4 linked regions of the Homo sapiens genome follow. The protein of the gene in region 1 purifies or fractionates together with the protein of each later gene. This does not show direct contact. Each region holds a gene or a part of one and is shown on either strand. Other genes may lie near its edges.

Region 1 (3,500 bases):
TTGTAGTTCCAGGCAATTTTGTGCCCTTGAGGTGTCCAATTGATAGTATAGCTTGCCTCTGCTAATAAATACACAAAAGTTTTCTTTCCTGTGATTTTCAGAAATTATTTTTGGAATACAAAGATTAATAAGGAATATGTGATGTTTATCTCCTGCATTTCAAAATCTTCTGGATTTTTTTTGAGGCATGAGGAGCAGGTAATGAGATTTTTTTTCTGAATATCTTGATTCTCTCCCTTAACCCAGATTTTGCATATTATGCATTGCTCATTTGTCACCTACAAAAATAAAGGTTAATGATTATTTGTTTGCTTTTGTCTATATAAGCTCCCTAAGGCACAGACCATGTTCGTTTTTCTTATGTTCCTCTTAGCACTGTGCCTGGTGCCTTGCCATATAAAAGGTACCCTATAAATATTTGTTGGCTGAGTAATCAGAGAGCCCATTTCAAAATCTAAATTATACAAATCATCAAAGACCAAAAAAAAAAAAAAAAAATCTCTTGACAGTTGATGCTCAAATGCATTTGGTTCTGTGGAGCTTATCCTGAGATTGAGGTCTGCACCTTGACTGGAGAGGAATTTGGACTTTACCTCACAGGTAGCAACAAAATGCCTGAGTAGCAACGTCTTTATACTGCACAGTTCCAGTCCTGCCTGCGTGAAAACTGAGCAGAGCATGGTGGGGACAGGAAGGTGTCCCTAAACCCTGTTGATGACCTCCCATCTATCCCCGGACCCCCATATCTCCTCTGCTCATCCCCTGTTCCCCACTGGCCTCTGATCAGTTGAAAGGGAGCTTTTCTAGCCTGGAACCTGAGCCTGCCTTGATTATCCTGGGCTCAGAACAGGTCCACTTCCACACTCTTTCCTTGCAACCTACAGATGGCCCTACTGACTGCTGTTGTCCAGGAGAAAGACGAACCTCCCAGTGGAATCTTGTCAGGAAAGGCATCCCTCTGGGGAGCTTTCTTTGGAGAGGAAAATTCTGGGACAAAGTTCCTCAGGATGCTCTCAGGCTGGTTTTTGTCTTGAAGATTTTATAGTAATTGTACCAATGTTTATTAACTCTCCTAGGAACATCTCTGTCTTTGGTTTTCTGACAGCACTCCAGCAGGGCCCAGGGCTTTAGCTGAACAGTGCAATTGTTTTAGGAATAAAACAGTCAACAAGTTAGAGACCAACTATTTATATTTAATATTCAAATGACTTTAAATCATTAAAAGAATCAGCAAATTACATATGAAATATTCAACGAATAATCTCAACATTAAACATATACCATGTAAGAACTGTCATTAAAATTACTAAAAATATGATTCCTTTAAGATCAGTTCAACACAGAAGAAAGCAGGAATTTGGCCTGGACAATAGGACATTTATTGTCTGTTAGATTTTAGACAAGTCAACTCTTCTAAATTGGCTTCTCATCTATGAAATGGGGATAATAGATCTGCCTAATTAGGTTGATTTGAGATAACGGATGTAAAACACCTAATAAAATAAGCATCCAGCAAATGACTTGTTCACTCTCTGAATACAGACTTCTGGTCATGTAGTTCGGTCACACTCCTGATAGCTTCTAGAACATCAGGGTTTTAGGAGAAATAGGTTAAAATGAACATCAAGAGTAGCAGAAGACTACTTTCCTTAATATTTGAGTGCCAGCTATATGCCACACAGTTCTAGTTGCTGGCAGTCAGCAGTAAACAAAAACTTCACCTGATGCAGCACATTCCAGGTGGGGGAACAAGTGAAAATATAGGGAATATTAGTGATAAGTGCAGAGGGAAAAAAAATAGAGCAGGGAAGGGGGATGATTTGATGTTTTTCAGGTTAAGAAAGTGACAGAAATGAATTTAAATGCAAAAAACAATGCATAAAGATTCATAATGGCAAAACGAAGCATGTCCCATCATACCCCTTCATTCCTACCTCCCTGATATGTATCTTTCTAATTATTCATACAAATGTGTATACCCAGTTATTACATATGGGGTTTTATTCTACATATTATGCTGCACTTGCTTTTTCTAATATAATGTGTATCATGAGCACCTTACAAATTTTTAAAGGTCTCTCAAATTTATCAGTAAACATATACAGTCTAACGTTAATGAGAAGATATTTTGGTGGGCAGTTTGCTTTAAATAAATGGGATCATGTACGTTCTCTGCATCTCACATTTCTCATTTAACAATGTAGGATGAGAATTTCTCTAAGTCTATCATAGCTCTTATTTCCTTTTTATTATTACAATAAACATTCCTGTGTATATGTTTGTCACCATGATGGTTTTACGTCTGCGGAATAGATTCCCTGGAGTAGGATTGCTGCATTGAGGAGTATGTATATTTAAATTTTTAAATAAATATTGACAGATTGTTTCCCAAAGTGGCCGGAACAGTTTTTATTTCCATCAGTAAATGTATAAAAACACTTTTCCCTTAATACTCATGGCAATAACTATTGTAACATTAAAAAATACGTAGAAAAAAGAAAAAAATCCTGGTGGATGTAGTGATTTTTCAGTGTTATTTTAATTTCCATTTTCCTGACTACTATAAATGTAGACATCTTTTCAAATGTTTTGGTCATCTGGATTGCACTCAGAACTGAATTATCTATTCAAAGTTCTGTAGGTTAGAACTCCAGGGAAACTCAACTGGGCTGTCTGTTCAAGGCCCAACAAGGCTGAAATGAAAGTGTCTTCCAGGGTGGGTACTCAACTAAAGCTCTGAGGAGGAATTCGCTTCCAGCCTCATTAAAGTCAGAGGATGGAGGTCCCTGTCTCCTAGCTGACTGTCAAATCTGATCCTTTAGAGGTTGCTCCGTGGTCCTTGCACGTGGTCCCTTCCACCTTCAAAGCTTGCCAGGGTGCATCAAATTATTTTTATACTTTGACTCTACTTCTACCAGCCAGAGAAAACTGCTTTTAAAGGGCTCTTGTGACTAGTTTAAGCACACCCAGATTGTTAAGGTCAACTGATTAGTAGCTTTAATTACATCTGCCAAGTCCCTCTGCCCTGCAATGTAACATCAACCATGGAAGTAACATGAGGGGCAGAGTTCATGGGGGCCATCTTAGAATTCTGCCTACCACAAATATTCGTAGTTATACTTTTATATACATTTTTAAATTTTTCTTATTTTTGGTCCATATGTTTGTACCGTTTGTCTTTTTAGTTAACTAGTTTGTGAAAGCATTTTGTATGTTGTACAATATATGTTCAGATTTTCTTATCTTGGATGCAAACATTTTTTTCCAACTCTTGTAAGTTGTCTGTTGACCACATTCAAAAGTACTTTTTCCAAATAAAACTTTGCCTTTTGAATTTCACTTGAGTGAATTGCATATTTGCATTTTAAAATGTTTATTTTGTTATTTTATTAAAGTTTTGCCCATGTTCCACTGTGTTTTTTAAAATTTGCAGGTGCTCTTTTTATACTACATGTAAACCCTTTTTCTTACTATTTGCCAGTGTTTTTCTCCAAAACTAT
Region 2 (2,340 bases), on another chromosome or scaffold:
TCAATCCTTTATTTTTTTCTCTGTAAATATGTACAGTGCACGGGCTATGAGATAGCAACAAAAAATGCATAGTTAATGGTCATAGACTTTATTCCAAAACATAATTGGAAAATAGAAACTGAGCCATTGCCAAATGGTAAAGAAATGAAAAGTTTTCACAGTGACTACTGAATATACCAAGAGCTTTTGGCAGTACTGCTGGCTTTCTGGGTGATTAATTAGGTAAACTTGAATATTCCCAGTAAATGTTTGAGAATGCATAAAATTATACCAATTTAAAAATATAAATTTTTGCCACTGTTTTGTGAACGGAGGATTTGTACGCTAAATTTCATCCTTATTTGGCGTCAAAGTTGATGCAAAGTTTATGTACCATGAGACTTCTAGTGATTGCCTACTTTCACATTTATTTAAATTTTTGTGAAAGAAAATACAGTTTTAAAGGCTATAGGAATGTGTTATATGTACCTTAAACAGATAATTTAATTTTAGCAATTTATCATAACTGATACTTAGCTAACAATTGTCCATAACTTGTTTAAGTGTAAGAAATACCATTTCAGGAATGAAAAAGAAGGAATACTACTTTCTAAGAAAGAAGATCTTATAATAGACATATTTAGTAGGTTAAACTACTCCTTTGAAAGAATAAGTTTTGGTTCAAAGTCAATAATGAAGACGAGATTTGTTTTTCTCTTCTCTGGCTGATTTTTAAGGATATTATGTAGTTCATTTAGTTAACAGAATTGAAATGTTTGATATGGCAAGATAGGTATGGTAATTTCAAAGTGAATTGGGAATTCCTCTGGCTCATAGAACCCTTTTTTTTTTCCTTTAAGTATTCTTGAGATACAAAAAAAAAAAGTAAATACAATTTCAAAAAAAAAGTTCCGGATCTGTTTTTAAGCTCCATCTGGTCCTCATAACCTGCAAGATTTTTCTTAAAACCTTTCAGCTGAAAGTGGGGGTAAAGGTGGAGTAATCTGTGGATTTGTTTCTGTTGTCTTTTAAAATGTCAAATATATAATATGTAATTTTTTTAAAAACCACCAGATACAGAAATGTGCTTTAACATCAGTTGAAACCTAAATTTTCTTATGTTGTGGTGATTGTATTAAAAAGGGATAAAAGAAGAGTGTCAAACATGGTTAAATATATTGTACTCATTTATGTTGAATACGTATTAAAATTAAGACAAATGGAAAATTATACTTTGAGTATATAATTTGTTAAATATTACTTTATATGGTAATTTTATGTATAATTTCATATATTGGTAAAATTCAAAACTACACTTGAGAATTTTTTTATCTTAAGTTTGGGGTGAATGGGGTGGATGAGACTGATTGAATAGAAAAGGGCTAATGGCCCAAACATTATATAGATTTCTTTTTTTCAGTCAGAGGCCTTATTTGATATTTTATAAATAAATGACAGTTTTTATTTTTAAACTTTTTATTGTTTTTGGGAAAGTATTCCTTAATTTAATGACACATTCATTCAGATACTTCTTATCCCTGCTAATAAAGGAAATCTATTTCAAGCTACACCATTGAGATTAAGTCTGAGGCAGTTCATTGAGGCAGCTCTACTATAAAAGCTTACTTGATAAATAATTATTTTTGTAAACAAGTTGGGTTAACTTATTCTTCGTCTTTTTGCTTGGATATGAATTTAAGGTCTTCATGTTTAAAGACATTTACTTTGTTATTTAGTGACACATTTCCATCCTATTTTTTTTTTTTTTTTGGTTGTTGTTAAACAGAACCTTAAGTTTATGTTTGAGGTATGTACTGCATAGGAACCTATTTTATTATTAAAGATGAATGATTAAAATTGGTATGGTCTCCAATTTAATTTGAAAAGTGCTTACCCTTATTCTTATATATGGTTTAATTTTAAGGTTTTTTGTCTCTTCTTAGTGCAAAACTACTTAGCAGTGACCTCTATCTGTATTCCTTAGGAATTAGCAGCTTCTTAGTGTGGATCCTGCAGAACTTCTTACCATTTGTAGTAGGTTGAATCATGTCCCCTAGAAGGTAAGTCTAAGTCCTAACTTGATACACCTGGGAAGGTGACCATATTTGGAAATAGTCTTTACAGATGTGATTAGGGGATCTCAGGATATAATTACCCTGGATTTTGGGTGGGCTCCAAACCCAGTGACTAGTGTCGTTACAATAAGAGAGGAGGAGATATGAAACACAGATATAGCAGCATGAGGACAGAGGCAATGAGTTACGCAAGGACTGCTAGCCACCACCAGAAGCTGCAAGAGAGGCATGGAATGGGTTCTTCACGGGCTCCAGAAAGGACCAAGCCTGCTTGATTTCAGACTTC
Region 3 (3,500 bases), on another chromosome or scaffold:
GTGTTCTGTTTGAGGAAAGATCTAGAACTAGGCACAGAGGACACAGTGGTGATACAGTCTAGTAGTAGGGAGAGACATTAATCAAGTAATTATTTATTAATGTGTGTGTGTGTGTGTGTGTGTGTGTGTGTGTGTGTGTGTGTGTGATTGCAAGCCATGATAAGGACTGTAGTGAAAACTTTAACATGCCGTGGGCACATATAACAAGAGTTGTTTTGAGCATATGTTCTCAGGATCTCCTGAGGGCTGTGTCATGGAAAAAAAATTGCTTTTACGAGACAAAACTTTTATAAGACAAAAATATCTAGTTGATTGAGAGAGACGTAAATCATGTCAGAAAGCTAAACTGGCATTGCTGCAGAAAGATGAGATAGAGTTGAACCAGCAGGTAGAGTTTGGTGATGGTGAGAATTGGGAGACTCTGGAATGGGGCCATTCTTATGGTGAAGCATTTGGTCAACAATTGAGGGCAAGAAGCCTGAGGATGGGGTGGAAACTCCAGGCTTAATTCCAAAAGGATTTCTTCTGAATCTTCCTGTGGGAGGGGAAAAAAAATGGTTTATTTGTTTGTCTCAAAAGTTAAGAGCATGTATATGGAAAGAGCTTATGACTCATATAATCCTCATTTTTACTTACTGGGGGAGGGACTCTGGGTCCTGGGTCTGTAGTTTAGATGTGGCTCCTCAGAATGGGGTATATGAGAGAGGAGGGTGTATCCCTAGATGTTATTAGCCTAAGGGGTGCCTGGAGTTTGGAAGGTAGGTGAGTCTCACGGAAATAAGAACAAGTAGGCCCAGCCCTCAGCTTAGCTGCATGGTCTGTGGGAAGTGGGATTCTTTCTAACATTGGATAGATAGTGTATATAAATAGACAAGACTCTCCATTTACATTGTATACAAGTAAAGGATGAGTGGGGTGTGGAGGGGGAGTGTTACTGATTTTGCGTGTTTGAAAGGAAACAGGGTTGGGGAAGCCACAAGTCTTGGGCTTCCTGAAGGAGCCAGGCTCTGGGACCAGCTTGAATGTCGGGAGGATGGCAGCGTAGAAGACGGTGAGGTGGGCTGTGAGGAGAGTTTGGTGGCACAGCCTGTGGGAGGAGCCTGGGTGGCTGGAGAGAGATGAATGGAGGAAATGGGGACGAGCTGCCTAAGAAACGTGGTGATAGTTGGCGAGGGAGGAGACAGGAAGACCTTTGACAGAGGAGATAGCTGAGACCTCAGGTTCATCCACAGCAGGTAAATTCCAGGGCCACACGGGACAGGCGACGTGGGGAGTGTCTGTGGTCACAACTGGGGGCCCCAGCACTTAGAGCCTGTGACTCAGTATGTACACGTAGCACCAAATGCTTTTTGGTTCTGTCTTGGGCATCTCCGCACGGGCACTTCCGCCAGTGGTTTCTTCCATTGCCTTTGGGATGAGCAGGCCTCCTGAAAGCAGGCCTGATATTCTCTGGTCTTCTGACAAAGAATGGGAAATTTCTCACACCGTCTTGTTCCAGGAACCACCTGGGGATGGGATTTGAAGGGCTTGGGTTGCCGAATTGCTCCTAGAACCACAGGCTTAGAGGAGTTTTCTATGAACAGCGGTCCTGGCAGGGACAGACTGAGGATCGGTAGGGCTGAATGAAGACAATCCCACCTCCTTCAAGAGCCACCTCAACTTATGTTTTTTTCCCACAAAGCCCCCCCTCCGATTTTGCCAGCCTTTACTGATCACATCATCCACTTTCTCACAGACCTTACAATTTAGCATTGGCTTATATATTGCCTTATATTGAATAATGTTTTATGGTCTTGTTTTTCCTACCACTTCCTTATGTGTAGAGACTGTGATCCATATTTCCTCTTGATCCCTGTAAAGATGCTGAGCACACAGTAGGGGTTCAGAAATTACTTGGTAAGAGACATGGATCTAAGTATGTCTGTGACTGGACCTTTCCTACTAGATTCAATCCACAATTAGTACAGGGTGCCCAGTATATGCTGGGCACGGTGGGATACAAAGCAGTACAGGTGCTGACTCTGGTTCTCAGCCAGGGCACCGCTGGCCTCCAGGGGGTGTTCGGAAATGCTGAGGAGGGAGGATTAACTGTCTTGGGAGCACCGGGCACGGTGGCTCACGCCTGTAATCCCAGCACTTTGGGAGGCCGAGGCGGGCGGATCACGAGGTCAGGAGATCGAGACCATCCTGGCTAACACGGTGAAACCCCGTCTCTACTAAAAATACAAAAAAAAATTAGCCGGGCGCGGTGGTGGGCGCCTGTAGTCCCAGCTACTTGGGAGGCTGAGGCAGGAGAATGGCATGAACCCGGGAGGCGGAGCTTGTAGTGAGCCTAGACCACGCCACTGCACTCCAGCCTGGGCGACAGAGCGAGACTCTGTCCAAAAAAAAAAAAAAACTGCCTTGGGAGCACTAACGGCATTTAGCACATGGGGATTGGGGATGTTAACCATCTGGCAGAGTCTGGGACAGTGCATCGAAGAACTGTTTTTCCACCCGTATTGCCACTGGTACCTCTCATGAACTTGTTATGGACATGGGAGAGACCCGGGGAGGGACTGGACAGGTTTCTTCCATGAAGTAGGAAGTAGTTCCTAAGTCCCCTGTGTACTTCTTTCCAGGTAGAGAGAGGAATGTGGGCTCTAAATTACCCTTGTGCATGGCACATATCTAGCAGCTTTTGTCTGCTAGCATACCTCTGGAGGTAAAATAGGTAGGCTCCCAGCCAGACTGTAAGGAAGATTTTCATGTTCTCTTTTCACCACCCACCCACTCTTTCTTTCAAGGCACATTTTTAAGAAAGTGGCTGAAGCTTGCAATACTTAGTCTTTAGTTCTAAGTGACTCAGGAAAGAGTCTTCAAGAAAACAGTTGGACAGAGTGCCCCAAAGCCTAAGCAGCGTGAGGCAAAGATAGGCAGGTGCATGTGGCGTCTTAGAGAGGGGCCAGCACATCGTCTCTTCTCTGGGGTCTTTTCATCCTACACTTGTCTTTTTGAAGACAGAGGTGTGGTGAATGAATGTCATTACTTACATCTGGGGGAGTGACCAGAGACAGTAGAAGACACCTTGCCCTAGTGTATCCTTTCAGGGTGGACCAGTGGCTGGGAAGCAGCACAGCTGAGCGGGATGAGCTGGAGCTGTGCAGAGCTGCCTTCCACAGCTCGCTGTTTCCCAGTCCCAGTCAAGAGAGCAGAACTTGGTAGGCTCCTGGCCTTGGGTAGCTAAGGTTTGGAGGAGGTGGAGAGAGTCCGCCTAACCTTAACAAGGTCATTCCTCACAGTGGAAACTACCTGAGCCCCACGTGTCGAAGCAGGGTAGGGGGAACAGGCAGGATGTGGATCAGAAGTTGGTTTGGGCTGGGCGCAGTGGCTCATGCCTGTAATCCCAGCACTTTGGGAGGCTGAGGCAGGCAGATTACTTGAGGTCAGGAGTTCGAGACCAGCCTGGCCAACATAGTGAAACCCTGTCTCTACTAAAAATACAAAAAATTAGCCAGGCA
Region 4 (3,500 bases), on another chromosome or scaffold:
CTTCTTCATACATCCTTGTGCTATAGGTACTCCCTATCGTACATCTTTACAGGCAGATGTCATGAGTGGTTTACTACACAAAACTTCTCTGGTGCTTTTCTTCTCATCCCTTTTCAGCCCTGTTCTCCATTTGAGGGACTGCATGTTAAGGTCTCTAGCGTGAAATTCGGAAGACATTTTCAGCCTTCCTCTTACTTGACCTTTAGCAACCCTTTGATTATGTCCTTCTTGAAATGCTTTCGGGGATGGAAGGCTTTGTGATGCTGCTTTGTCTGGACCATGTCATAATACTCTCCAGGATAGCCCCTTTGTTCCCATGACTTCATGTATTATCTCTCTATGCCAGAGACTCTTTCAGCTGTTTCTCTAAGCTCCAAACACACATACCTCTATCTAGTAGAATGCTTTTCAAGCATCTCAAAGTGAACATGTCTAAAACTGAACTTGTGATAATACCGCAAATCTGCTTTTGACCATTTTAGTGATGGGGAGTCCTTCACACAGGCAGAAAACTAGGAAATGTCCTTAACTCCTCCTTTTTACCAACACTTTTTCTCCTAATCTGTCACCAAGACCGCTTGATTTCTACCTCCAAATTAAATTTACCTACTTTTCATTTTCTTGCCTAGACTGTTGTAGAAACACACCCAAGCTAGTCTCTTAGAGAAGCTTTTCTTTCTTCTTCAATCTAAATTATATTCTGTTGTAACTTCCTGTATTTTTTCTTCCTGGGGCTTATTACAGTTTTTACCATGAGTTTATATAACAGTGTGTAGCACACAGTACTTGTTTAGTAGACAAGCTGCTTTTGAGGTTGATCTGTAATTCATTTTACTTTAAAAATTCTTCGAATGATCTATTCACATGGCTTCACTCATATTGACTCTTCAAATCTGGATCTCCCATAGTTTATGGTTTCCATGATGTAAGTGACTGCCTCCTGGGAGCTTCACCTGAGTAACAGCAGAGACTTCAAACTTAATCTTGTCCTCAACTAAACTCTCATTTCCCATCCTGCCCCCAAAACTCTTGTTATTTATTTTACTCCAGGAGTCACCCAAGCCATAAAATTTGACTTTTCTGTTTAGGTTGTCTTTCAGCTTATATCTCATGTTATTATCTTCTTGTCTTCAGCCATTCAGTGCAGTTTCCACATTGATAATCAGGGAATCCTTTTGAAAACACAGATGATATACTAGTCTTGCTTAGAGATATTAAGCTTAGTATCTAGATTGTTTGGTGTAACCTGCAAGGTTTTTCACTTTTCTGGTTCTGCCTTCTTTTGTGCTTTCAACTCTGGACTCCTGTTTTTGTTTGTTTGTTTGTTTTTGAGACGGAGTTTTGCTCTTGTTGCCCAGGCTGGAGTGCAGTGGCACGGTCTCGGCTCACTGCGACCTCCGCCTTCCGGGTTTAAGTGATACTCCTGCCTCAGTCTCCTGAGTATCTGGGATTACAGGCGCCCACCACCAGGCCCAACTAATTTTTTGTATTTTTAGTAGAGGCGGTTTCACCGTGTTGGCCAGGTTGGTCTCGAACTCCTGACCTCAGGTGATCTGCCCGCCTCAGCCTCCCAAAGTGCTGGGATTACAGGCGTGAGCCACTGCACTTGGCCTGGACTCATCTTCATTGTCCACCTCCTAGGCTAAATTTATGTCTTTTATGTGCTTGTAATCTCTGCATACCACTTTAGTGACACTTGCCCTGGAGTGTGATTGGTAATCCCTCTCCCCACTAGATCCTTGAAGGCAGGACCTGTGTTCCCTGTTTAACCATAGTTCTCAATTAGTAATTCAAATTTGGGTTGGGGAGAGCTAAGTGGTAATTTTTAATTCCTTCAAATTTTCCATGAATTGGACTAATTTAAATTCTGGTCAGAGATAACAAAGGATAATACAATTTGATCTATGATTATCTTGTGATAAATACTTAATGGAAGTTAAATTATTTTTAAAAATCACAGAAGGTAACTCAGGTTACAAAAATACTTTGCAGAGAATCAGATATCACCAAGGAGAGAATTCAGAAGATCCTGGCAACTGGTGCCAATGTTATTCTAACCACTGGTGGAATTGATGATATGTGTCTGAAGTATTTTGTGGAGGCTGGTGCTATGGCAGTTAGAAGAGTTTTAAAAAGGGACCTTAAACGCATTGCCAAAGCTTCTGGAGGTATGTCTTGTGCTGGCTGTCACATAAAATACTTTTATTATCCCTGATCCTATCAAAGGTCTTTTTACATTGGAATATTGACAGAAAACAGCTCAAAAACATTTATATTCTCTTAATGCTTTGTGCTACCAACACATTTATAGAGCCATTTTTCATGTAACTGGAGAAATTTTGTTGGAAATTTGTGAACTGAATTTGTTCATTTCTAAAATGACAGTTCCATCTTAGGATAAAAGGAGTTACCGTGTGCTGCCTAACTAAATTCTAAACTTGTAATATAGCACTTTTACCACAAATGCTACTGAGTCCAAGGATATTAAAATCATGAAAGAGCAATATTCACAGATCCTTTGTAACTCTCTTATTAGCAACTATTCTGTCAACCCTGGCCAATTTGGAAGGTGAAGAAACTTTTGAAGCTGCAATGTTGGGACAGGCAGAAGAAGTGGTACAGGAGAGAATTTGTGATGATGAGCTGATCTTAATCAAAAAGTAAGAGCCACTTTCTAAAATTGTAAAGTTATACCGATTTTGTTAAGTAAAAGTAGGTTTTCTTCCCATTTATTTGCTGCTTGTAGTCTCACAGTGATACGAGCAGTTATACGCATGGGATAAAATAACATTGGGCCACTGTAAATTGAGATGAAGTAACCATTTTCATCTCTTCTGCAGGGACTAGACATTGTTTCTGTATAGTATATCTAAATATCCTGTGTAGGCAGGACTTAAGGGAACTTTATGTAGACTTATTTTATTAAAATGCCATTTTTTTTGAGAAATTGATGGTCTTGGCAAAAAAAAATTTTTAAAAATGCTATTACAAGAATTGTACTTTTGTTTTGAACAGTACTAAGGCTCGTACGTCTGCATCGATTATCTTACGTGGGGCAAATGATTTCATGTGTGATGAGATGGAGCGCTCTTTACATGATGCACTTTGTGTAGTGAAGAGAGTTTTGGAGTCAAAATCTGTGGTTCCCGGTGGGGGTGCTGTAGAAGCAGCCCTTTCCATATACCTTGAAAACTATGCAACCAGCATGGTAAGAACAGTCATTTCTTGTCTTAGAGGCCTGAGAGCAGTAGCTGTGGACTTCAATTTTTTTTTTCCCTTTTGTGAAGTCACCTAATTTTCTTCTTTTCCTAGGGGTCTCGGGAACAGCTTGCGATTGCAGAGTTTGCAAGATCACTTCTTGTTATTCCCAATACACTAGCAGTTAATGCTGCCCAGGACTCCACAGATCTGGTTGCAAAATTAAGAGCTTTTCATAATGAGGCCCAGGTTAACCCAGAACGTAAAAATCTAAAATGGTAAGCATGGTTTCCCGCTCTTTG

What was found. Proteins that work in one complex are often made in the same cells at the same time.
Region 2: the proteins of STRN (region 1) and FGFR1OP2 purify together in Homo sapiens (affinity purification with mass spectrometry; 4 studies listed by BioGRID and IntAct, with this or other methods). This does not show direct contact.
Region 3: the proteins of STRN (region 1) and MINK1 purify together in Homo sapiens (affinity purification with mass spectrometry; 3 studies listed by BioGRID and IntAct, with this or other methods). This does not show direct contact.
Region 4: the proteins of STRN (region 1) and TCP1 purify together in Homo sapiens (affinity purification with mass spectrometry; 3 studies listed by BioGRID and IntAct, with this or other methods). This does not show direct contact.

What each region holds. Positions count from the first base shown.
Region 1 is NC_000002.12:36,837,537-36,841,036, reverse strand, and holds the end of STRN (striatin), read left to right. Parts: 3' UTR 1-3,339; downstream 3,340-3,500. UniProt on the Homo sapiens protein: Calmodulin-binding scaffolding protein which is the center of the striatin-interacting phosphatase and kinase (STRIPAK) complexes.
Region 2 is NC_000012.12:26,964,809-26,967,148, forward strand, and holds the end of FGFR1OP2 (FGFR1 oncogene partner 2), read left to right. Parts: 3' UTR 1-1,840; downstream 1,841-2,340. UniProt on the Homo sapiens protein: May be involved in wound healing pathway.
Region 3 is NC_000017.11:4,839,840-4,843,339, forward strand, and holds part of MINK1 (misshapen-like kinase 1), read left to right. Parts: intron 1-3,500. UniProt on the Homo sapiens protein: Serine/threonine kinase which acts as a negative regulator of Ras-related Rap2-mediated signal transduction to control neuronal structure and AMPA receptor trafficking.
Region 4 is NC_000006.12:159,779,603-159,783,102, reverse strand, and holds part of TCP1 (T-complex protein 1 subunit alpha), read left to right. Parts: intron 1-1,992; coding exon 1,993-2,168; intron 2,169-2,536; coding exon 2,537-2,660; intron 2,661-2,721; exon of another isoform or gene 2,722-2,853; intron 2,854-3,015; coding exon 3,016-3,208; intron 3,209-3,312; coding exon 3,313-3,476; intron 3,477-3,500. UniProt on the Homo sapiens protein: Component of the chaperonin-containing T-complex (TRiC), a molecular chaperone complex that assists the folding of actin, tubulin and other proteins upon ATP hydrolysis.